Linked DNA regions of Homo sapiens: all the other regions are linked to region 1. Evidence: fine-mapped expression QTL. A gene starts in region 1. Each other region holds a variant in brackets. All regions are shown on one strand. Distances are between the middles of the regions.

Region 1 (4,413 bases):
TGAGGGGCCACCCCAGCACCCTGGAGTAAGGGGGAGAGGAGAGGACTGCAGGCTCACCCTGGCCATCAGAGGAGCATGTGGTGTGACTTTGCTTTAGTACCCCCACCTCTCTGGGCCTAGGTTTCTCCGATGAGACCAGGAGTGAGCCCCCAGGTGACTTCTGTCCTTGTCCACCTGGGAGGCTCAGGCTTACGCTTGTAGAGCCTTAGCTGGGTGGCCATTATGTGCCTGGGGGTTGCACGAAAAGCAGGGCCTGGGGGCAGGGGGGTGGCCTGTGCCCCAGTGCTACAGCACCAGACAGTGCCAGTCCTTGACCCACAAACCTGGGGCAGGGGGCATGGATATGATCTCTCCCAGGTGGGCCTATGAGGATGGGCAGCGAAGGACATTCCAGGCAAGGAGGCTGCGCGAGCGACGTGCAGAGGAGACCACAGATGTGCCGGGAGGCGCCAAGCAGGCCTGCTTTCAGGTGAAGTGTTCCTGCCCCAAACCCCGGTGTTTCCAGGAGGGCAGCACGGACGGTAGCGCCACTGCAGAAGGAACTCTGCCCATCCGGGGAAAGAATCCCCACTCCCCAAAGCCTGGAAGGAGGTGTTGGCCTGGGGACAGCCCTTCACCCCCACCCGCTGGAGCTGATAGTGGGTGGGGAGCAAGGGTGGAGCAAACAGCGAGATCAGAAGCGGGAGGGGAAGGTGAGAATGGAATCCGCAGAGGACACGCCCCCTCTGTCTCCAGGGCACCCAGCGATTAGCAGCAAATTCTGGGCTTTGTGCCCCGCAGCTTCCCACTGGGTAACCGACCGGGAAGTTCTAACTCCCCTCAGCGCACAACACCTCCCCAACACACTCCCTTTTCAACGAGTCTCTCCCCCAAGAAGCAGGCTCCGACGCCACAGATTTAATACTTAAGGCCACCGCTACCCACTCTTCCGCCAGGGCTCTCAGCGCTGGCCGGGAGCTGAGGGTTTATTCGAGCCAAATCCAAGTAGATGAAGAGGCGGTGAACAAGGGCAGGTGCTGGGAGAAAAGTGGGACCAAACAGGGATAAGCGGCCGGCCCTCTCAGCAACTCCCGCCGCCAACCACCCTCCCCCGCCCCCGACATCTAAATCCTGGTGAATAAATTAACCCTCAAGGTAAAAGCAGAGAAGCCAGAGGCCCAACAGGGAAGTGCCGTGCCCGACGCCCACGGTCGGGGCATGGGAGAGCCTGGACTGCACGCCCGCCCGGGCCCTCCCGGGGACAACTGCATGGGAGGAACCCCAGAGCCGCGACCGCGCCTCGGAGAAGGTGCCCCACACCGGCTCGCCCGACCCACCCACCACCCCCCTTCCGCCCCCAACAGCTCACAAAACCGCGTAGGAAGGGGCGGCGTTCCAAGGCGTGACTCGGCGCCAGAGTGGTTCAGTGCCCTCCAAGGCCAGCCGAGTAGGGGGTCGGCTCCGTAGCCCCAACCCCGCTGGATGGCTGCGCGGGACGGGGTGGAGTCAGTCCCGAAATATACGGCCGGGGGAGGGGACCCTGCTCCCAGTGCGCAACGGATGGGGATGGGGGAGGGGAAGGAGATGAGCCCGGGACCTCGGCGCGGGGGGCAGTGGGGCATCCTCCCGGCAGTCCTGGCCTCCGCTCAGCCACGGTGCTGCCCCGGCGCCCCAGACCTCCCGTCCGAGCGTGCCCAGAGAGAATAAAGACACCTGCCCTCGCGGACAGCCCGGGCCTGAAGTCAATTTACGCCCACGAGACCCGCCCGAGGCAAGAGAACTGTGGTCCCCATTCACAGACGCGGCGACCCCCGCCAGCGGGAAGCCGCGAGGCCAGGGCGTGCTGGTGGGCCGACCTCCCTCCCCGGACGCCTCGCCCCGGCCCGGCCCGGCCCGCCGCCTCCTTACCCCCCGCGCATCCAGCCAAGAAGTCCAGCGCCATGGCCGGGTCCCCGGCGAGGCCGCCTTTCCTCCTCGTCCTCCCCCTGAGGCCCCTCGCCGGGCTGGGCGCCGTCGGGGTCCCCGAGCGCGCGGTGCCGGGGCTGGGCCTGGCCGCTCCTCCTGGCGCGGAGCCCGGGCAGGCGCGGTCAGGGATGGTGGGGATGGCGGCAGCAGCTAGACCCGCGCTGGTCCCTCGGCGGCAGCTGACTCGCTGGATCCCCTCCGGCCCGCGGTCCCTCACCTCGGGCCGCGCGCCCCGCCCCTCGTGCCTGCCGGCAGGGCCCGGGTGGGGGCGCCGAGTGAGGCCAATGGGCGGGCACGGCGCGGACAACACCCCGGGCACTGCGCTTCGCCGCCGCGCCTCATTGGCCGGGCGTGCGCGGGAGGCGGGGCGCGGGGGACGTGGTGGGCGCGCGGGCGGGGCGCGGGGACGCCTCAGACAAAGAGCGCGCTGGGTGCGCAGGTCCGGCGGGAGGGGACGCGCGGGGTGGCGGGGTTGAGCCGAGGACTCCCCCACCCGGAGTACGCGGGGTGGCTCTGGTCTGGACCGGGTCGGGAACCGGACCCTGGGTTCGGAGTCCGGCGCCGCCGCAGAACCTCAGCGCCCTAGTCTGTGCCGTGCGGACCCTGCCGCGAAAACGGCCGTGGAGCGCCGGGACGTTCCGAGGCCCGCAGACTGGGACGCCGCTAGTTGCGAAACTCCGCGAGCGGGAATCGCCCGTGGGGAGCCTCTGCCCGTCCCGCCTGCGCGCCCGCGGCGGCGGTGGCCTCCGGGGCTTCCGGACTCCTGGCCGAACCCGCCGGGTTCTGGGGGTCGGACGCGCACGGGCGCTTCCTGCGGAGCCTGAGGCTGGGATTTGGGCGGAGAGCAGGGAACCTTAAAAGGGAAAGGGGCCATGGGCAAAGGGCGCAGCAGGCCTTCGGGCCACAGCTCCTTCCCGAGGACTGCGGGTCGCGGGAGCCGCGGAAGGTTGTGGAGAGAGGGAGGTTCCTGGACTGGGCTGCAGAGTGGAGTCGGGCCAGATCGCAGCGCCTCCGTCAGCGGCGGCCGGACGGGGCGAGACCGGAGGGGCTCGGTAGGGGCCGCGCTCAGGCGCTGAAGTCGGAGGGTGCTTGGCTCTGGGTCACCAGGGTATCCATGGGCTGCGGGGATGAATGAGAGCCGAGTCTGACTCGGCCCCCCAGGAGTCCCTGACATTCGCAGTGGCAAGGGACTGCCCTGGTCCCTGTGGAGCGTCCCATTCGGTGACTTCCCACCAGCCCTTCCCCAGCGCCTCTGGAGGTCCAGACTGTCAGGTTGGAGCCTGGGAGCAGGGACGGGCCAGGCGCTTTCTCTTCGCTGTAGGAGTCAGATCAGCCTTAGGCCGGGCCCAGCTTCCTTCTTTAGGGCCTGCAGGCAGGCAAGGCCACACCGTGTGCCACGTTTCCAGGTTTAGGGTCACATGGTTCTTTTATCCAAATTCCAGTGGGTACCTACCTCCTGGAGGTGCAGGTCGAAAGGTTCTGTGTATTTGGTACTAGGACACACAGGTAGGTGTTGTCAGTAGTGCAGCCTGGTGCTAGGGGCAGGGGTCCCCAGTGCTCATGTTAGTTTCCTTTTAGAGTCTAAGTAGAATGTTAAGCAGAGACCCAAACCCTAGGTCTGCTGACTCCTAGTCCAGGGCTCGTGATGGCTGGTGGGCCCTGAACGAGGGGTCTGGAGGCCTGGGTTTGAATATCGACAGCCTCTCTGACCCACTTGGTTGCCTCAGGGAGGCAGGTGTGCGGATGGGGGAGAGTGGCCCATGGGCCAGAAAAGCAGTGGTATGGGGGCCCCAAGAGAAGCCCAGACCCAAAAGGGCAGGAGCTGGCTGTGGGGCTACTCAGGTGGCTGGAGGCCTCCTGCAGACACAGTGATTACACTGGACTACCTACATGTAGTCACTTACCTTAGGAACAGGATGTCCTTGGGATGCTGGAGGGCTCATGAGGTAAAGCACAAATCCCTGCACATCCATTCCTGGTTGAGGAGGTTTGGGAGGGAAATCCAGTACCTTGACAGCATGTGGCAGTAGTGAGAAAATGATGGAAACGGATAAGGAGACAAGCATGACCTGTTTTGCTTTGTTATTGAGAGAATGCACATGCCTTGAAAATTATGCTTGGGGCAGGTTGCACTGAGCTGTCAGTCCCTGGGGTCCTTGGGAAGGGGCCTAGTAGCCTGGTAAACAGTAGGTATTCCATAGTTGAGCTTCAGAAACCTCCTTGAGGCTGGGTTCAGTGGCTCATGCCTGTAATCCAGGCACTTTGGGAGGCTGAGGCAGGAGGATCGCTTGAAGCCAGGAGTTTGAGGCCAGCCTGGGCAACATAGTGAGGCCCCATCTCTAAAAAAAAAAAAAATCGGCAGGATGTGGTGGCGCATGCCTGCAGGCCTGTAGTCCTAGCTACTCAGGAGGCCGAGGCAGGAGGGTCGCTTGAGCCCAGGAGGTCAAGGCTGCAGTGAGCTATGATCGA
Region 2 (4,413 bases), 110 kb before region 1:
AGGAATTCAAGGCTGCAGTGAGCTATGATTGCACCACTGCACTCCAGCCTGGACGACAGAGCGAGACCCTGTCTCAAAAAAAAAAAGAGGCTGATGGACCCCCCAGGACCCACTTCCAAGACAGCAGTCATAAGTCACAGGCCGCTGGGCAGCCACTTCATTTATATCCCGGTTTTCCCTTCTGCTATTTCTTTCTCTTTTTAAAAAGTGTTTTGTAGAGATGGAATCTCACTACGTTTCCCAGGCCAATCTCAAACTTTTGGGCTCCCAAAATGCTGGGATTAGAAACTGTTTCTTTCTCTATTAAGTAAAAATGTATCTGTTTGTATTCTCCTACCTCTTTGTATGTAAATTATAACATAATATACACAAGAATCGAGGCTTTTTTTGTTTGTTTTCTTGTTTGTTTTTGAGATGGAGTCTCGCTCTGTTACCCAGGGTGGAGTGCAGTGGCGTGATCTCAGCTCACTGAAGACTCCACCTCCGAGGTTCAAGTGATTCTTCTGCCTCAGCCCCCAGGGTAGCTGGGATTACAGGTGTGTGCCACCACACCCAGCTAATTTTTGAATTTTTAGTAGAGATGGGGTTTCACCATGTTGACCAGGCTGGTCTCAAACTTCTGGCCTCAAGAGATCTGCCCGCCTTGGCCTCCCAAAGTGCTGGGATTACAGGCGTGAGCCACCGTGCCCAGCCAGTTTGTTTTTTTCTTTTTACTGGTTACAGCAGCAACAGGAGAATCAAGGTTTTTGGGGTTTCTTAAAGTAAACTTTAAAAAACTGATTACATGCTTGAACCCAGGAGGTGGAGGTTGCAGTGAGCCGAGATCGTGCCACTGCACTCCAGTCTGGCAACACAGCAAGACTGTGTCTCACAAAAAAAAAAAAGAAAAAAGAGAAAAAATTACAAATATAGCACATATTTGTGGAAAATACACACAAACCTATAATCTCACTGCCCAGCTCTACGCAGGAACCACATTGCAGGAGCATATGGAAACTGACAAGAGAGGTGTGGAGATTTTGTACATACATTTTTAGAAAAACAAAACAAATTTATTATGGTAAATTGAAGAAGCCAGTTACAAAAGGCCACCTATTGTAGGATTCCACATATATGAAATGTCCAGATGAGGCATATCCATAGAAACAGAAAGAAGGCCGGGCGTGGTGGCTCACAGCTGTAATCCCAGCACTTTGGGAGGCTGAGGTGGGCAGATCACCTGAGGTCAGGAGTTGGAGACCAGCGTGGCCAACATGGTGAAACCCCGTCTCTACTAAAAATACAAAAATTAGCTGGGCGTGGTGGCACATGCCTGTAATCCCAGCTACTTGGGAGGCTGAGGCAGGAGGATCGCTTGAACCCTGGAGGCAGAGGTTGCAGGGAGCCGAGATTGTGCCACTGCACTCAAGCCTGGGCAACAAGAGTGAAACTCTGTCTCAAAAAAAAAAAAAAAAAAAAGAAAGAAACATAAAGTAGATGGTGGTTGCCAGGGTTTGGATGGAAGGGGGCATAGGAGTGACTACTAACAGTCCGAATTTCTCTTTGGGGTTTACAAAAACTGTCCAGAATTAAAGAGTGGTATTGGAAGTGGTATTTTCTCAATTAAACATAAAAATGCCCTGGCACAGTTGCTCATGTCTGTAGTCACTCCCAGCATTTCGAGAGGCTGGGAAGGAGGATTTCTTGAGCTCAGGAGTCCGAGACCAGCCTGGGCAACAAAGTGAGACCCTGTCTCTACAAAAAATAAAAAATTAGCTGAGTGTCGTGGCACAACCTGTAGTCCCAGCTACTAAGGAGGCTGAGGTGGCAGGATCACTTGAGTCAGGGAGGTCGAGGCTGCAGTGAGCCATGATCATGTCACTGTGTTCCAGCCTGGGCAACAGAGTGACTGAGACTGTTTCAAAAAAAAAAAAAAAAAAAAAAGAGAGAG[A/C]GAGAATAGAACCAAGGAACTGTCCTCTGTCCTCTTGTTTCCTCTCCTCTTCACTGTACTTCAGAATCATTCTGAACACTGGAGTCTTCATTGCTGTCACGCTCTGTCCATCAGGGCCCTCGACTGTAGGGAGTCACAGGCCCAAGTGTATAAAGAGCTGGGTTAGAGATCCCAAGCCCTGATGAGACTTGCCTGCACATGTGCTATATGGACTCGGATCTGGAACCACACTGAAGCCACAGTGATGAAGCGATGAAGAATTTCAGAGAAATTCTTGCAGGAGATGGCTTTTCAGCTGGGCGTAGAGGCCTGGGTTTTGTGGCATGGTGGAGAGTTTCCCTTTTCATGCTGTTGGCTTCCCTCTGCTGCCCAGGTTGGGTCTAGGGCGGTGATCCTTGGAGGAGAGTGGGCATCCCCAGGAGGGCCTGACAAAGGGATGGCTGGGCCCCCTCCCAGAGTCTCTGACTCAGCAGCTCTGGGGTGGGGCCTGAGGGCTTGCATTCCCAGCAGGTCCCCAGTGATGCTGCTGGCCCCGGGGGCTACCCATTGAGGACACTGATGCTGGGAGGTGTCCCTCTGCTGCACCTGTGTCATTGAAGTGTGCTTCACTGGGCCCTGCGTGGGTTTCCCATTCTCAGGCAAACAGCCCTACACACTTTTTTTTTTTTTTTGAGATGGAGCCTTGCTCTGTTGCCCAGGCTGGAGTGCAGTGGTGCTATCTCGGCTCACTGCAACCTCCGCCTCCTGGGTTCAAGCAATTCTTCTGCCTCAGCCTCCTTGAATAGCTGGGACTACAGGCGCATGCCACCACGACCGGCTAATTTTTGTATTTCTAGTAGAGACACCTGCCTCAGCTTCCCAAAGTGCTGAGATTACAGGCATGAGCCACCACGCTCAGCCTAATTTTTGTATTTTTTTAGTAGAGACAGGGTTTCACCATGTTGGCCAGGCTGATCTTGAACTCCTGACCTCAAGTGATCCACCCGCCTCGGCCTCCCAAAGTGTGGGGATTACAGGCGTGAGCCACCTCGCCTGGCCTCTATACACTTTTGAATAACACATGTATTGAGATATAATTCTCATAGCCTAAAAGTCACCCTTTTAAAATGTGCAACTCAAGGATTTAGTATATTCAGAGTTGTGCAGCCATGACCATTTTCTCATTTTAGAACATTTTAAACTCCCCAACAAGAAACCTGGTACCTATTAGCAGTCACATCCTGTTATCTAACCCCACTCCCCATCCCCTGGGAAGCACTAATCTGCTTTCTGCCTCTATGGATTTGTTGATTCTGAGCATTTTGCATAAATGGGATAACACAGCCTTTTGTGTCTGGCTTTTTACTTAGCATAATGTTTTCTTTCTTTCTTTCTTTTGAGATGGTCTCCCTTCATCGCCAGGCTGGAGTGCAGTGGCACAATCTCAGCTCACTGCAACCTCCGCCTCCCGGGTTCAAGTGATTCTCCTACCTCAGCCTCCCGAGTAGCTGGGACTACAGGCGCCTGCCACCATGCCCGGCTAATTTTTTGTATTTTTAGTAGAGATGGGGTTTCACCATGTTGGCCAGGATGGTCTCCATCTCTTGACCTCGTGATCCACCCGCCTTGGCCTCCCAAAGTGCTGAGATGACAGGCGTGAGCCACCGCGCGCCCAGCCAGCATAATGTTTTCAAGTTTGATTTATATTGCAGCATGTATCCACACTTCTCTTTTTAGTCAAATAATATTCCATTGTAGTTACACATTGTTTTTAACTTGTTCTTAAAGATAAATTTTACTGGCCAGGTGCAGTGGCTCACGCCTATAATCCCAGCACTTTAGGAGGCCGAGGTGGGAGGATCACTTGAGGCCAGGAGTTCAAGACCAGCCTGGCCAACATGGTGAAACCCCATCTCTACTAAAAATACAAAAATTAGCCGGGTGTGGTGACCCACACCTGTAATCCCAGCTACTCGGGAGGCTGTGGCAGGAGACTCGCTTAAACCCGGGAGACAGATGTTACAGTGAGCGGAGACTGCACCACTGCACTCCAGCCTGGGCAACAGAGCAAGACTCTATCTCAAAAGTTATATACAAAAAAATATATATATATACACAAACAAAACAAAAACAGCCAGGCGTGGTGGTGTGCACCCATAATTCCAGCTGTCTGGGAGGCTGAGGCAAGAGAATTCCCTCTACCCGGGAGGTGGAGGTTGCAGTGAGCGGAGATTGCACCATTGCACTCAAGCCTGGGGGAAAGAGTGAGACTCTGTCTCAAAAAAAAAAAAGGTAAGTTTTACCAAAAAAAACTTATTATTTTTTTCTTCACAGGGAGAGGAGAGGGAGATAGGAAGTTCAAGTCTTTACTTTTTTAATTAATTAATTAATTATTATTATTATTTTTACTAATTCCTACTCAGAATGCAAAGATAACTTTTTAAAAACATATATTGTTAGTCTGGGCAACATAGTGAAAACCTGTCTCTACCAACAAAAAAAGA
Region 3 (4,413 bases), 35 kb after region 1:
CTGATAGAGTCACTGCTATGTGGTGGCCATAGCCCTCCCTGCTGGGCCTTGGGGAAGAAGCTTCAGTGTCAGGAAGAAAGTCTGAGAACACAGGTCCTGGCTTCCAGGGGCAGTTTGAAGAGGATATTGAAAGGCCAGTTCCCAGAACTTTATCTGAGAGGAGAACAAGGAAACTGGTGTCTGCTGCATGTTTTTCAAGATGTGCTGGCGTCACCACCACCTGCACACTCCCCCTCCCCAGGCTTTTCCCACGGTAGGCACACAGCAGATGTGCCATCCGTGGAGGCTGTTAGGGTTATGACATGCATTTTATCCCCAACAACCCAATGACCTCTGTAGTGATGTCTCTATCTTACAGGTGAAGGAAATCAGGCCCAGAGTGTCAGGAACCTGCCATATGTGACAGGGATTGGCAGGACCAGGCTGGCTCCTGGGACACCAGGCTTCTGGGTGGAGCTCGAGAACTGAGGGGCTCAGTTCTGCCTCCTTGACGTGATCAGTCCTCAGTGATGCAGGAACCAGCCTACCAGGCCTGACTTACAGGAAAACAGATGGAGGGCTGACTTGGGGGTGGGTATGGAGCACTGCTGCCAGCAACTAAGATGATGGAAGTGGGTGACCAGTGTGACTCTGTGTGACAGGAAATGATGCCGAATGGACACAGCCAGCTAGGGTGGTAGTTGGAATAAAGTTAGATAACACAGGCTTACTGTGTGCAGGTGGCAGGTACTCACTCAGCAAAGCCACCTGAGTCGTCAGCACTGTGCTACTATTTTGATTTTTTTAATTTGAGAGATGGGGCCTCACTGTGCCACCCCAGCTGGGGTGCAGTGGCTATTCACAGGCACAATAGTAGCTCACTGCAGCCTTGAATCCCTGGGCTCAAGCCATCCTCCTGAGTAGCTGGGACTACAGGCACGTGCCACTGCCCTGCCTGAACCTGTTATTTTTAGGAGGCTGGAGCAGATGTGCCCTCTCTTTTCTAGTGTGGAGATTCTGATTTTGGAGCTGAAGTCGGGCACGGGGATTTAGAGTGAGGGCCTGGGCGGGCCCTGTTCTGCCCCACAAGAAGCCTGCAGGCCCAGTGACCGTCTGTAGGCCTCTGTTTTTCCTGACCTCATGCTAACTGCTCACCTCGAGGGCTCTACTGGTCCCTAAGTGAATGATAAATGTCCCAGATCCATAAACAAGTTTTTCTTTTTTCTTTTCTTTTTTTTTTTTTTTGAGCTGGAGTCTCACTCTGTTGCCCAGGCTGGAGAACAGTGGTGCGATCTCGGCTCACTGCAACCCCTGTCTTCCAGGGTCAAACAATTCTCCTGCCTCAGCCTCCCGAGTAGCTGGGATTATAGGTGCCTGCCACCAAGCCTGGTTAATTTTTGTATTTTTAGTAGAGACAGGAGTTTCACCATGTTGGCCACGCTGGTCTCGAACTCCTGACCTCAGGTGATCCACCTGCCTCGGCCTCTCAAAGTGCTGGAATTATAGGTGTGAGCTATCGCACCTGGCCATAAACAACTTTTTCCAAACAACTTCTCAGAAGCAAAATAAAACAGTGGACTTTTCCAATGGCGCTTCCCTCCCCACTCTGCACCCTGTGCTCCGGAAGTTTTGGCCAGAAGTGAAAGGGAAAGAAAAGTCTTCAATTATACCAGCTTCCAACTGAGTGGGGAGAGTTGGTGGAGGGCATGTCTTAGGAAGTTTTGATATGAAAGGCTTCCCCATTGTCAACCAGAACCTGCTTGGGACTTTCCAGAACGGTCAGGGGCAGTGACTCAGAGGGCATGTGACATGCCTCAAATACAGTTCCCAGCATTCCCACTGCAATCTTCTAGCCTGCAAACACACACTTGATTCCAAAGAAAATGTCAACTGCTTTGTGTAACAGTGAGGCAATTATATATACACTGGCTGTTGAGGAACCAGGCAACAGAACTGGGGCCATGCAAAATAAGGAAGCTCAAACTAACTTCTCCTTTTAGTTTCTCTAGTGATTTGTCAAATGTTTGCTGAATGCCTGCTGCATGCATCCCTCCTGGGGCCAGCAGGACTGTCCCGTGGATGGACGTTTCTCCGTTCTATGTCTCTCAGTGAGAACGCTCTCTGGGAGAAGACCAGCTCATAACCCCTGCTTGGTAATGGCTGCTCAGGGCCAGGAGAGCAGTGCTGCTGATTCCTGGTGGTGGAAACTTGGTCAAGTGGCTGGGCTTCTCTAAGCCTCATCATCTCATCTTTAAAGGGAATAGCACCACCACCTCCCAGTGAGAATGAAACATGAGAAAACATAAATAAGGCACCGGGTCCAGCCGCTGGAACACAGCTGATGATGAGAAATATACACAAATCTTTTCCATTATTTAATAACATCCACACTAATTATAACTTTAAGGAAATTGCCATGACTTTGCCTGCAGAACAGTGCTGATAAGAAAAGCAGAAAAGGAAAAAAAGAAAAAAAATTCAAAAT[T/A]TTACCTAAATGAAAGGACACAAAACAAATTCACCTGATTCATGTGGGAAGGACAGGCTGCCTTGAGTTCTGCAGGGAGCAAAGTTGGCAATCCTGGAGTTCAGCATTGCTACGGTGGCTGGGTGGCTGAGGCCCAAAGCACTGCGCAGTGGTGTGTGTGTGCGTGTGCCCCCCAGGGCATGTTTCTGATCCCGCTGGCTGCCCTCTGCCTGGGCCACTGCTCACCTTGGTTTTGATCTGCTTGGCCGTGTCGGTGAGGAAGATGGAGGAGTTGGGGTCGCTGGCACTCATTTTGGTCTGGGCGCCCTGCAGGGCTGGGAAGAAGGTGGAGTGCAGCAGGGCTGGTTTAGGATAGCCGATCCTGGGGGCGACGTCCCTTGTCATTCTAAAGTAAGGATCCTGTGGGGAGAGTAAGGACCCTGATGAGGGCGGCCAGAAAACATGCCAGCTTTCAGCCATGAGCAGTCCCTGTGAGCATCTTCCCAGAAGGCTCTCATGCTTCCAACCAAAGAAATTCACTCCCTCCTCCCCTTCATCTTTTCCTTTTTTTTTTTTAAATTTTACTTCCAGTTCTGGGATACATGTACAGAACACGCAGGTTTGTTACATAGGTATACATGTGCCATGGTGGTTTGCTGCACCCATCAACCCGTCATCTAGGTTTTAAGCCCCGCATGCATTAGGTATTTGTCCTAATGCTCTCCCTCCCCTTGCCCCACTCCCCAACTTTCTTTCCTTTTTTTTGAGACAGAGCCTTGCTCTGTCGCCCAGGCTAGAGTGCAGTGATGCGCTCTCGCTGCAACCTCTGCCTCTGGGGTTCAAGCGAGGCGAGTAGCTGGGATTACAGGCGCCTGCCACCACATGTGGCTAAATTTTGTATTTTTAGTAGAGACGGGGTTTCGCCATGTTGGCCAGGCTGGTCTTGAACTCCTGGCCTCAAGTGATCCGCCTGCCTTGGCCTCCCAGAGTGCTGGTATTACAGGCGTGAGCCACCCTGCCTGGCTGCCCATCATATCTTTCAATACCTCTCCCCGCTGAAGAGTAAGAGGAACCTGCTGTCAATGCCCCAGACTTAGAGAGCCTTGCTTTTCTGCCTGCTGACCTGGTCAATGGCACATGGGATAAGGCACTGGATATCCGTCCTGTCTCGGAAGATCTGTGGGAATGAGTTGCTGAAGGAGGGAGCAGCCTGGATGGCAGGAAAACTGATCTTCCCTGAAAATGAGAAAAAGTATTTTTACACGTGAGATGAGTTCCTGTTCTGCTTAGTTAATAAAGGAATGAACAAAAACAGGTTTTCTCCCATTATAAAACAATCATTAAAATAAATCTAAAAAATACAGAAAAGTAGAAAGAACAAGCTGTACAGTTGCAATGTGTCTGATTTCATCCATTTTCTTTATATATTTTACTCTATGCATTTTTGTTGTGATTACACTATATTTGGTCTTTCCTTGGCTTTTTCTTTTCCTTTTTTTTTTCTCAGAAGGAGTCTCGCTTTGTTGCCAGGCTGGAGTGTGGTGGCTCGATCTCAGCTCACCGCTACCTCTGCCTCCTGGGGTTCAAGTGATTCTCCTGCCTCAGGCTCCCGAGTAGCTGGGACTACAGGTGCGTACCACACCCAGCTGATTTTTGTATTTTTAGTAGAGATGAGGTTTCATCATGTTGGCCAGCATGGTCTCAATCTCTTGACCTCGTGATCTGCCCACCTCGGCCTCCCAAAGTGCTGGGATTACAGGCGTGAGCCACGGCGCCCGGCCTTCCTTGCCTTTTTCATTGTAATGACTATCCATGTTGTTACTAAGTATATTCTATCCTGTCAATGTATCATATCATTTAACCATTCTCTAGCCACCTTCCACCTTTAATTATCAGAAGTTATGATGGCTTCCCTCTTCCCTCTTCCCTCTCCCCACGGTCTCCCTCTCCCTCTCTTTCCACGGTCTCCC
Region 4 (4,413 bases), 43 kb after region 1:
GCCTGGCTAATTTTTGTATTTTTAGTAGAGATGGGGTTTCACCATGTTGTCCAGGCTGGTCTCAAACTCCTGACCTCAGGTGATCCACCTGCCTTGGCCTCCCAAAGTGCTGGGATTACAGGTGTGAGCCACCGCGCCCAGCCAAGTGGCTTCTTATATTGCATCTTTGTATTACTATATTCAGTAGCTTTTTCTCTAGGCCCTACCATGTGTTAGACACTACGAGGGAAAAGGGGGAAGGCTGGTGTCTTTTAAGTGTTTGCACCATGTGGCAGGAGCTGTGCTAGATGCTGCGTATGTGTCAATACTCCTAAAATCCCCTTCAAAGTAGTAGCATTGCCTCCACCTTACAGTTAGACTAGGCTCAAAGAAGTTCAGGGTCATAGTCACAGGCCCAGTGAGTACAGGGGCTGGGATCCCAACACAGATTCACCTGGCCCCAAAGCCTATGCTTTTCTCACCACATCTTATCCTTTAGAAGAGTTTAGACTTTTGGGGCAGGGTGGAGAACTACTGAATGTCTTTGTGCAGGTGGGGTGGGGTGTCAGGAGTGCAGGAACACTGGCCGTTTGTGCTGGGCGAAGCACAATGCTGGGAGGCCTGTAACGGTCAAGGTCAGTGCCAAGGCCTGTCCAGGTTGAGCAGAGGCAGCACGTGAGGGATGGACTGTGTCTTTCGCCTAGCAGCCGGCTGAGTTTCAGGCCCTGGGGGGCACTGGAGAGGGCGGGCGCAGTACTGTGAAGGGGCATGCCAGGAGAACCCAGCATCTGTGTCACCCACTCAGCACAATGGAAACAACAGAGAGCAAGAGCACAGCCAACAGCAGCACTGCCTGGAAAGATGCGGCCTTTGTCCTCCTGCCAAGCAAGCCAAGAACACCGCAGGCAGGGAGGGTCCCTCCTGGGCACCGCAGCAGGACTCACAGCCAGTAAGGACAGCAGCTGTCTGTCACCTGGGGAGATGGGCTGCAGCAAAGACTCCATGCGCCCTTGGGATTGAGGCACCTGGGACACCCTAACCCCTACAAGGAGGGAAAGTCTCCAGTACCCCCAAACTGTGGCAGGACTGTAGCTTCACGGCGTCTGACTGGTATTTCTGAGTTAGAGCACGCTGCCCTTTCTTAGAAGACTGGTCATTACTTGCTGCAAGCTGCTGCCACTGTGCTGGCTGCAGGGTGAATGCAGGTGCTGCACCGTGAGCACGTGTGATCCTCCCCTCAAGGGACGGCTGTCCCCCTGCACAGCTGGGACGGACCCATCACGCAAAGCAGCCATGCCAGTGCCGGCACATGGAGGCTTCTCACTGGCTGCAGTGAACACACCTAACTGTATATCACATGTGGCTGAACCACCAGTTACCCCAGGGAGGGCACCTGCTTTTCACTCTCAGACAGGGTTTAAAGTGGGAAGAGATTTTAGATTACAACATTTACTGAGCACTCCCCAGGTGCCAGGCGTGGCTTGAAGCACTTTATATGCAGTGCAGGCACTATCATCTCCTGACCACAGTCTTCTCTACCCCTGCCCTTTGTCCCTATTATCACCATAGAACTTATTATCACCTGATTGATCACCTGTTAGCTGATTCTCCCCATTAGAAGAGAGGCTTTACACAGCTGCTGAGATAATGGTTTTGCTCCCTGCTGTACCCCCACCATGAGTCTGGCATATAGCAGATGTCCAATAAATATTTGTAGAACAAAGGAGCAGAGTGAAGAAAGCAGGCAGAGAGGAGCTCCTCCCATGCCCGGGCCACACAGTGGAAGGCTCCTCCCATGCCCAGGCCACACAGCGGACGGCCGTCAAGCAGAGCACTTGCAACCTCTGCTATGCTGCCCCCCACTAGCACCCAGCTCCCTTCCTCACAGGAACATGGAAGCTCAGAGATTTAAGGACTTGCCCAAGGGAACAAGACCAGGCAGGGGCAGAGCTGGGTCTGGAACACAAGTTTTCAGACTCCCAGCTCAGTGCCTTTGCATCCCTCAGGGCCCTGGGCAGGAAGGCCGTTCTGGGGCCATGTGCAATGTGCAGGGGGAACTGCACTGGCCTCCTCCCTCATGGAGGCCTCACCACCTCCCTCCCACTCAAAGAGGGCGATGGCTGGCTTTGTTGAATTTCCAGCTCCTAAACACCAGGAAGGAGCTTTATTAAGCCAAAGATATAGATTTTGAGTTAAATTCAAGAAAGAAAAGTAAAATGCTCAAATGTTTAGAAGAAACTCTTAAAGTAAAATGTTTGAATAGAGGATTTACCCTTTAAAATGTCTCTCCTCACTTTAGGTTCAATATAAAATGCCTTTCAAGAAAAGATATCATCGACCCTTTTGGTTGACATACTGTCTGGGTTTCATCTTTACCCCATGTTTGTAAGAAAAAAGGAAGTTCCCGACCAGGTGCAGTGGCTCACGCATCCCAGCACTTTGGGTGGTCGAGGCGGGTGGATCACTTGAGGTCGTTCGAGACCAGCCTGGCCAACATGGTGAAACTCCGTTTCTACTAAAAATACAAAAATTAGCTGGGTGTGGTGGCGGGCGCCTGTAATCCCAGCTACTCAGGAGGCTGAGGCATGAGAATTGCTTGAACCCAGGAGGCAGATATTGCAGTAAGCCGAGATCATGCCACTGCTCTCCAGTTTGGGCGACAGAGCAAGACTCCATCTCAAAAAAAGAAAAAAAAAAAAAAAAAGGAAGTTCTTATTTAGCGA[A/G]GGTGGAGGCTGGTCAGGAGCTGCAACCGCAGTTGCCAAAGAGACAGCACGAGGAATGGCGGCCTCACTCCACGTTCAGAGAGCGCTGAAAGTGGGGTTGCTCAGGTGGTGGTCTTTTCACATGGACTGTTCAAAAGTTCATCTACCCCATCGTGCATCTATTGGCTGAATCAGCTTCATGGACTATTATAGGCACTTGCTCTTGTCTCACCACCAGCATTTATATCCATCAACGAAGCGGCTCAGCTTTGCTTCTGCTGTGTCTGTGGGGCCCAGGAGGGGATGGGCCACAGAGAGCACAAATTCAGGAACTATGTGTCTTACTCAGCTAGTGGGGAGAGGGCCACACTGTACCAGATGTGGCAGAGGTAAGGCCCAGCCTGATGGAGGACCAGAGAGGGGCATCTAAATTTGGCTGTGGGGAGGGAAAGCTCCTAGGAAAAGGTGATGCTTGATCATGCCTTTGGAAGAAAGTGTAGGAATTAGCTAAGCTGGGGGTGGCAGGGTCAGGAGAGTGGGTGGGAATTCTGGGCAGCACAGAGCATGTACAAAGGAGAAGGATGTGGAACTGCAAGCTGTTCCACTGAGCTGGAGGTAGCAGTGACGCTGGAGAGGAACACAGGGCCAATCACGAAAGGGCTCGTGTGCCAAGTGAAAGGTGAGAATTCTCAATGTCATCTAAGGAGGAGAGCTGGGAAAGACCCGCAAGTGGAAGATGAGATTAGCTCTGAGTTTTAGGGAGATCACTGGCTGGTGGGGGCAGTGGTGGTGTGGGAAGAGGATAGCAGCTACTGGGCAATGCCAGCAGCACTGCCTGACTGGAAAAGGAGAAGCAGAACCCACAGTTGTCTCTGCAGAGGTTCAATCAGTTGAATCATTGTATGGAATGGGGTGAGAATAAGGAAATAAAGTGCCATGAAAATTATACTAACACGGCTGGGCATGGTGGCTCACACCTGTAATCGCAGCACTTTGGGAGGCTGAGGCGGGGAGGATCACTTGAGGTCAGGAGTTCAAGACCAGCCTGGCCAACATGGCAAAACCCATGAGTGAGACTCTGTCTCAAAAAAAAAAAAAAAAAAGAAAATTATGCTAATGATGACATCTATGTTCTTGTTTGATCCCATTTCATGGACACGGCTGCTATGACACACAGCCACTAAACCCAGGTGCCAGGATCTGGATCCCTGTCTATTTTCCTTCCTTCAAGGATGCCACAGGGCCTCCATGCTCACATGGCTGAACCAAGAGAAGTAATTTTAAAAGATCTAATAGGTGCTGGGCGTGGTGGCTCATGCCTGTAATCCCAGTGCTTTGGGAGGCCGAGGCAGGCAGATCATGAGGTCAGAAGATCGAGACCATCCTGGCTAACACAGTGAAACCCCGTCTCTACTAAAAATACAAAAAATTAGCCGGACATGGTGGCGGGCACCTGTAGTCCCAGCTACTTGGGAGGCTGAGGCAAGAGAATGGTGTGAACCTGAGAGGCGGAGCTTGCAGTGAGCCGAGATTGTGCCACTGCACTCCAGCCTGGGTGACAGAGCGAGACTCCGTCTCAAAAAAAAAAAGAAAAAGAAAAAGCTAACAGTTTTACTGGCTGATAGAAGGGCGAGATTTCCTATCAGGGTATACATTGCTCTCAATGGATATAAAACCACTACTCAGTTTCTTTCTTTTTTTTTTTTTTTTTTTTTGAGACAGAGTCTCACTC
Region 5 (4,413 bases), 59 kb after region 1:
CTGTGTTCCTAGCTCATCGGGAGGCTGAAGTCAGAGGATTGCTTGAGCCAGGGAGGCAGAGGTTGCAGTGAGCCGAGATTGCACCACTGCACTCCAACCTGGGTGATGAAGTGAGATCCCCACCCCACAAAAAACCCAGAACATCAGTTTTTTTTAGACAGGGTCTCACTTCAGTCTCCTGAGTAGCTGGGACTGCAGGTGTGTGCCACCATGTCTGGCTAATTTTTAAATTTTTTGTAGAGACAGGGTCTCACTATATTATCCAGGCTGGTCCCAAACTCTTGGCCTGAAGCGATCCTCCTGCCTTGGCCTCCTAAGTGCTGGGATTATAGGCATGAGCCACGGAGCCTCGCCAAAAGCTGATGTTCAGAAAAAAAAGCCAGACACAAGACTGTATTACATACAGTTCAAACCCAGGTAGAGCTACCCCTGGTGGGAGGAGTCATGGCAGAGGCTGAGGCGCGTGAGGGTGGCTTCTAGGTGCTCTCTGCTTGCTGTTGATTTGGGTGCTGGTTACACAGGTGTGGTCATTTTGTGAAAATTCAGTGAGGTGCCTGCTTGTGCTTATGATCAGCATGTTTTTCTATATGAATGGTATATTTTGATTTTAGAAGTTACTTAAACAAAAAGGAGAAGAAGAAAAAGGCTCTGCTCTCTTTCTTAATACCTAAGACCTAGCATTGCTTCTTTAGTCCTGCTCAAACTATTTCCCCTCACAGCCCTCAGATGCTGACTTATTTCCCCCTAGGAAACTTGCCGCTTTAATGAGCTGCTGCTACTGAAGGATGTGGATCTTATTCTTTAGATACACTGGAGCAGAAAAGACCTTCAAGGTCCATGGCCTAGATAAATGGCAGGAGAAGAAAGAGCTCAAGGTGCCCTCTCTTAGAACTGGCACTCCCAATGTGGCTCACACTATTTTGCTAAAAGTTAATTTTTAAAATTTCCAAAACATCAAGTGCTTCTACTACCAAGACATTTCAGGGTCAGATACAAATGTACTTCTGAATTTTTCACCACTTAACTCTGGTCTCATTGTGCAACCTCTGATGTCTTCAACGTGTGCCAGCCAATTGCATTAGTCAAATAATACACTTGGAAGAGTTATTATAAAATGTATTAAGTTGACTAAAATAATGAACATAACTGCAGTCACTAAGAATTACTAACTAAAAACATTTACTAAATGTTATTCAAATTTAATATTAAATGGACAAAAATACCACTGTCAACTTCCCAAAATGATGGGCTTACATAACCCCACTGGGTCTTTTATTTATTTTATAATTTTGTTTTAAAACAACTTGGTTTAATCGTTTGAGGCCTACCTGGTGAGTAAATCTCTTTCTGTAAAAAAGTAACTTTTTTTTGACATTACTTTCTTTCAGTACTATTTATTTCATTTAAAATATGAGCTGGGTGCAGTGGCTTGCATCTATAATTCCAGCAACTTGGCAGGCTAAGGTGGGAGCCCAGGAGTTTGAGGGTGCACTGAGCTAGGATTGCACCACTGCACTCCAACGTGGAAAGAGCGAGACCCTGTCTCAAAAAATACACACACACACACACACACACACACACACACACACACAAATAATGATTTAAATCAGGGTCCCAAATAGTCAAAGTAAACTACTGGGGAATGTGAGATGGTTGACACAATCTGGTGACAAGCAAGGTGTTTGAAAAGATAACAGATAACAGGAGTTAAAAGTGTCGGAAGTCGGGCCGGGCGTGGTGGCTCACACCTGTCATCCCAGTACTTTGGGAGGCTGAGGCGGGCGGATCACCTGAGATCAGGAGTTCAAGATTAGCCTGGCCAACATGGCAAGACCCCCTCTCTACTAAAAATACAAAAATTAGCCGGGTGTGGTGGCGGGCGCCTGCAGTCCCAGCTACTTACGAGGCCAGGGCAGGAGAATCGCTCGAACTCAGGAGGCAGAGGTTGTAGTGAGCCAAGACTGTGCCAGTGCACTCCAGCCTGGGCGACAGAGTGAGACTCAGCCTCAAAAAAAAAAAAAAAAAAAAAGTGATGGAAGTCATGGAGAAGCCGGAGTGGAGTCACCCCAGAAGGAAATGAAATGCTTATGTTCTAGTTAAAGATGCGTATTGATGATGATATTTCTGAAATCTACTACAACAAAAGCAGAGATCTT[CT/C]TTTTTTTTTTTTTTTTTAAAGCATAATCCCACAAGGACAAAGGAAACAAGAAGAGGATGACAGCAACAAGGTTTCAGAAGCCAGAAAGCTGATGAATGATCAGTGCCTAACAGCATGAGAGAAAAACAAATGCTAAGACATCATGGAAATACTGGAAGGTGACCGAGTGTACACTGTTACGGAATCACCCAAAGGTTCGGGCCTTAGTGACCTTGCGCACTTACAGGAGTGGGGGCAGGAAAGCGGGTTATGAAAACAGGAGCGCTGGTTGAAGTCTCTTCAAGAAGCAGTTATTGAGAATCCCTCTCCCCTCGGCCAAGGGAGTGTCACAGTTTCCCCTCCATTCCAAGGTTTCATGTCAAGAGAGGACAGAGTTACAGGTGCCTAGACTGGGGGCAGTCTGCACAGTTGGGGCACTGGCAGCACACAGAGAATAGGGAGCTTCGGGGAAGGATCCCACAGCCCAGCCCTTCTCTCCCACTCAGCCGTAGAACTCTGGCAGCGGGACTCACCCCCTCTGAACAGTGGACTGGGGGAGCTTTCTCTGGGGAATCTCACTTAACTTTAAAGAAAAGATCTAAAGACCTTGACACGAAAGATTCCCCAACAAAAGGGGAGCAGCCTGGTCACTCTCCAGGAAGTGGAACCTATGTTGATAAGCTCTTCCCCAATGAAGAGTGCATCCAGCAGCTTTCAGTGCACCCCCCAAAACACCAGCAAATAGCCAAGAAACACCAAACAGTTGAGAATTGCCTCTAATATGAAAGGCAGGTAGAAAACAAATTAAGATGGAAGAAACTGAGGTTATAAAGGATGTAGAGGACATATGGAAAACTACCATTAAGATCTCAGAGAGAGAGAGTTGAGTGTCCTGAGAGGTCAGATTGCTGTCAGACATGGCCCATGGACATGGACATGAGCATGGACATCGTAAAATGGAACTTCTAGATTACAGACAACGGAAGACAGAAGGGACACCATTAGAAACTATCCAGAAGAAGCTGGCTGAAAAAGGGCTAAGGGATCCGTGGGGCCACAATGAAGCTTGAAGATACATGGGTGGCTTTGCAAAGAGTGTTTCCTTTTTTGATGTATTGTTTAAAGGATTCAAATGGGGATTTGCTGCATTTGTGGTAGCTGTAGGAGCTGAATATTACCTGGAGTCCCTGAATAAAGATAAGAAGCATCACTGAAGATAATACCTGGAAGTATCATAGTGGTTTCTTAACTCTCCAAAATAAGATTTCTTCACTGTAGCCTACTCGTCTGGTTTGTCCCTTACAGAATATTAGTAAGATTTAATACAGTAAAATAAGATTAAAAAAAAAAATCTCAGAGAGAAAAGGGTGGTACTGTACCTATGAGTCAGGGCAGAGTGCTGTGAGGAAACTTCAGGGAGCATACATGCTCCTGGAAGTTAAAAATGATAGCAGAAATGGAAAACAATAGGAGGGTTAGAAAATCAGAGAAACAGTCTCTGAATTAAAAAAAAAAGTCTGTGAAGAGAGAAAACAGAAGAGATCAAAGAAATCATGATTTCTGAGAATTAACGGCCATGAGTTTCTAGTCTAAAAGGCAGGCTGAGTGTGGTGGCTCACGCCTGTAATCCCAGCACTTTCGGAGGCCGAGGTGGGCAGATCATGAGGTCAGGAGTTTGAGATCAGCCTGGCTAATATAGTGAAACCCCGTCTCTACTAAAAATACAAAAATTAGCCTGGTATGGTGGCGGATGCCTGTAATCCCAGCTACTTGGGAGGCTAAGACAGGAGAACTGCTTGAACCCAGGAGGCGGAGGTTGCGGTGAGTCGAGATTGTGCCACCACACTCCAGCCTGGGTGAAAGAGTGAGATTCCATCTCGGGGGGCGGGGGTGGGGTGGCAAAAAAAAAAAAAAAAAAAAAAAGAAAGGCATACTGAACCTGCATCCCATGAAATTTCAGAACACGGGAACAAAGAAGATCCTGCTAACTTCCAAAAAGAAAAAACAAAGGAATGGCAACTGACTTCTCTGCAGCAAGCCCAGAAGCTAGGTGCCAATAGAGCAGTGGCTTCAGCATTTCCAGGGGAAATCACTTCCATGCTAGAACCCTACACCCAGCCTGGCTATCAATCATGTTTTAGGTAAAATAAATACGCTTTCAGATGGGCAAGATCCCCCTAGAAATATTTCCTTTGCAATATTTTTTTCAGAAACAATTGGAAGATTTGCTCTGCCCAAAGAGTAAAGCAAAGAGGAATAAAGATGCAGGAGCAGGA

Alleles and levels. Alleles are on the strand shown, and positions count from the first base shown. SD is a standard deviation of normalised expression in the study named. Not every link is listed here.
For the expression in ileum of the gene that starts at base 2,133 in region 1, C is the high allele of the variant in region 2 and A is the other (small effect, 0.37 SD a copy in GTEx).

What was found. PIP is the estimated chance that this variant, and not a neighbour inherited with it, causes the effect.
Region 2: its variant is the best candidate, but not a certain one, in a credible set for the expression of SLC25A29 in ileum (GTEx, PIP 0.74).
Region 3: its variant is the best candidate, but not a certain one, in a credible set for the expression of SLC25A29 in whole blood (INTERVAL, PIP 0.56).
Region 4: its variant is the best candidate, but not a certain one, in a credible set for the expression of SLC25A29 in whole blood (TOPMed, PIP 0.71).
Region 5: its variant is the best candidate, but not a certain one, in a credible set for the expression of SLC25A29 in monocytes (Fairfax 2014, PIP 0.50).

Annotation. Positions count from the first base shown.
Region 1 is chr14:100,304,312-100,308,724 of GRCh38, forward strand. It overlaps SLC25A29 (solute carrier family 25 member 29), which reads right to left and starts at 2,133. Exons shown (of 4, transcript NM_001039355.3): 1 at 1,888-2,133. The coding sequence starts at 1,921. MIR345 (microRNA 345) reads left to right here and starts at 3,548; the gene lies at 3,548-3,645. RefSeq lists enhancers at 627-706, 757-816, 1,069-1,635, 2,844-2,913, 2,944-3,113 and silencers at 1,964-2,063, 2,124-2,593, 2,684-2,753.
Region 2 is chr14:100,197,305-100,201,717 of GRCh38, forward strand. No RefSeq gene overlaps it. Among named protein-coding and RNA genes, the nearest start is that of YY1-DT, 39 kb to the right of the region's middle. The variant A/C (reference allele first, on the strand shown) is at 1,931.
Region 3 is chr14:100,339,709-100,344,121 of GRCh38, forward strand. WARS1 (tryptophanyl-tRNA synthetase 1) reads right to left here. Exons shown (of 11, transcript NM_004184.4): 8 at 3,567-3,679; 9 at 2,690-2,863. Among named protein-coding and RNA genes, the nearest start is that of SLC25A47, 19 kb to the left of the region's middle. The variant T/A (reference allele first, on the strand shown) is at 2,465.
Region 4 is chr14:100,347,734-100,352,146 of GRCh38, forward strand. The region is part of intron 6 of WARS1 (tryptophanyl-tRNA synthetase 1); the gene reads right to left. Among named protein-coding and RNA genes, the nearest start is that of WARS1, 25 kb to the right of the region's middle. The variant A/G (reference allele first, on the strand shown) is at 2,703.
Region 5 is chr14:100,363,572-100,367,984 of GRCh38, forward strand. All of the region lies in intron 2 of WARS1 (tryptophanyl-tRNA synthetase 1), which reads right to left. It also overlaps the pseudogene NDUFB3P4. Among named protein-coding and RNA genes, the nearest start is that of WARS1, 9.6 kb to the right of the region's middle. The variant CT/C (reference allele first, on the strand shown) is at 2,157.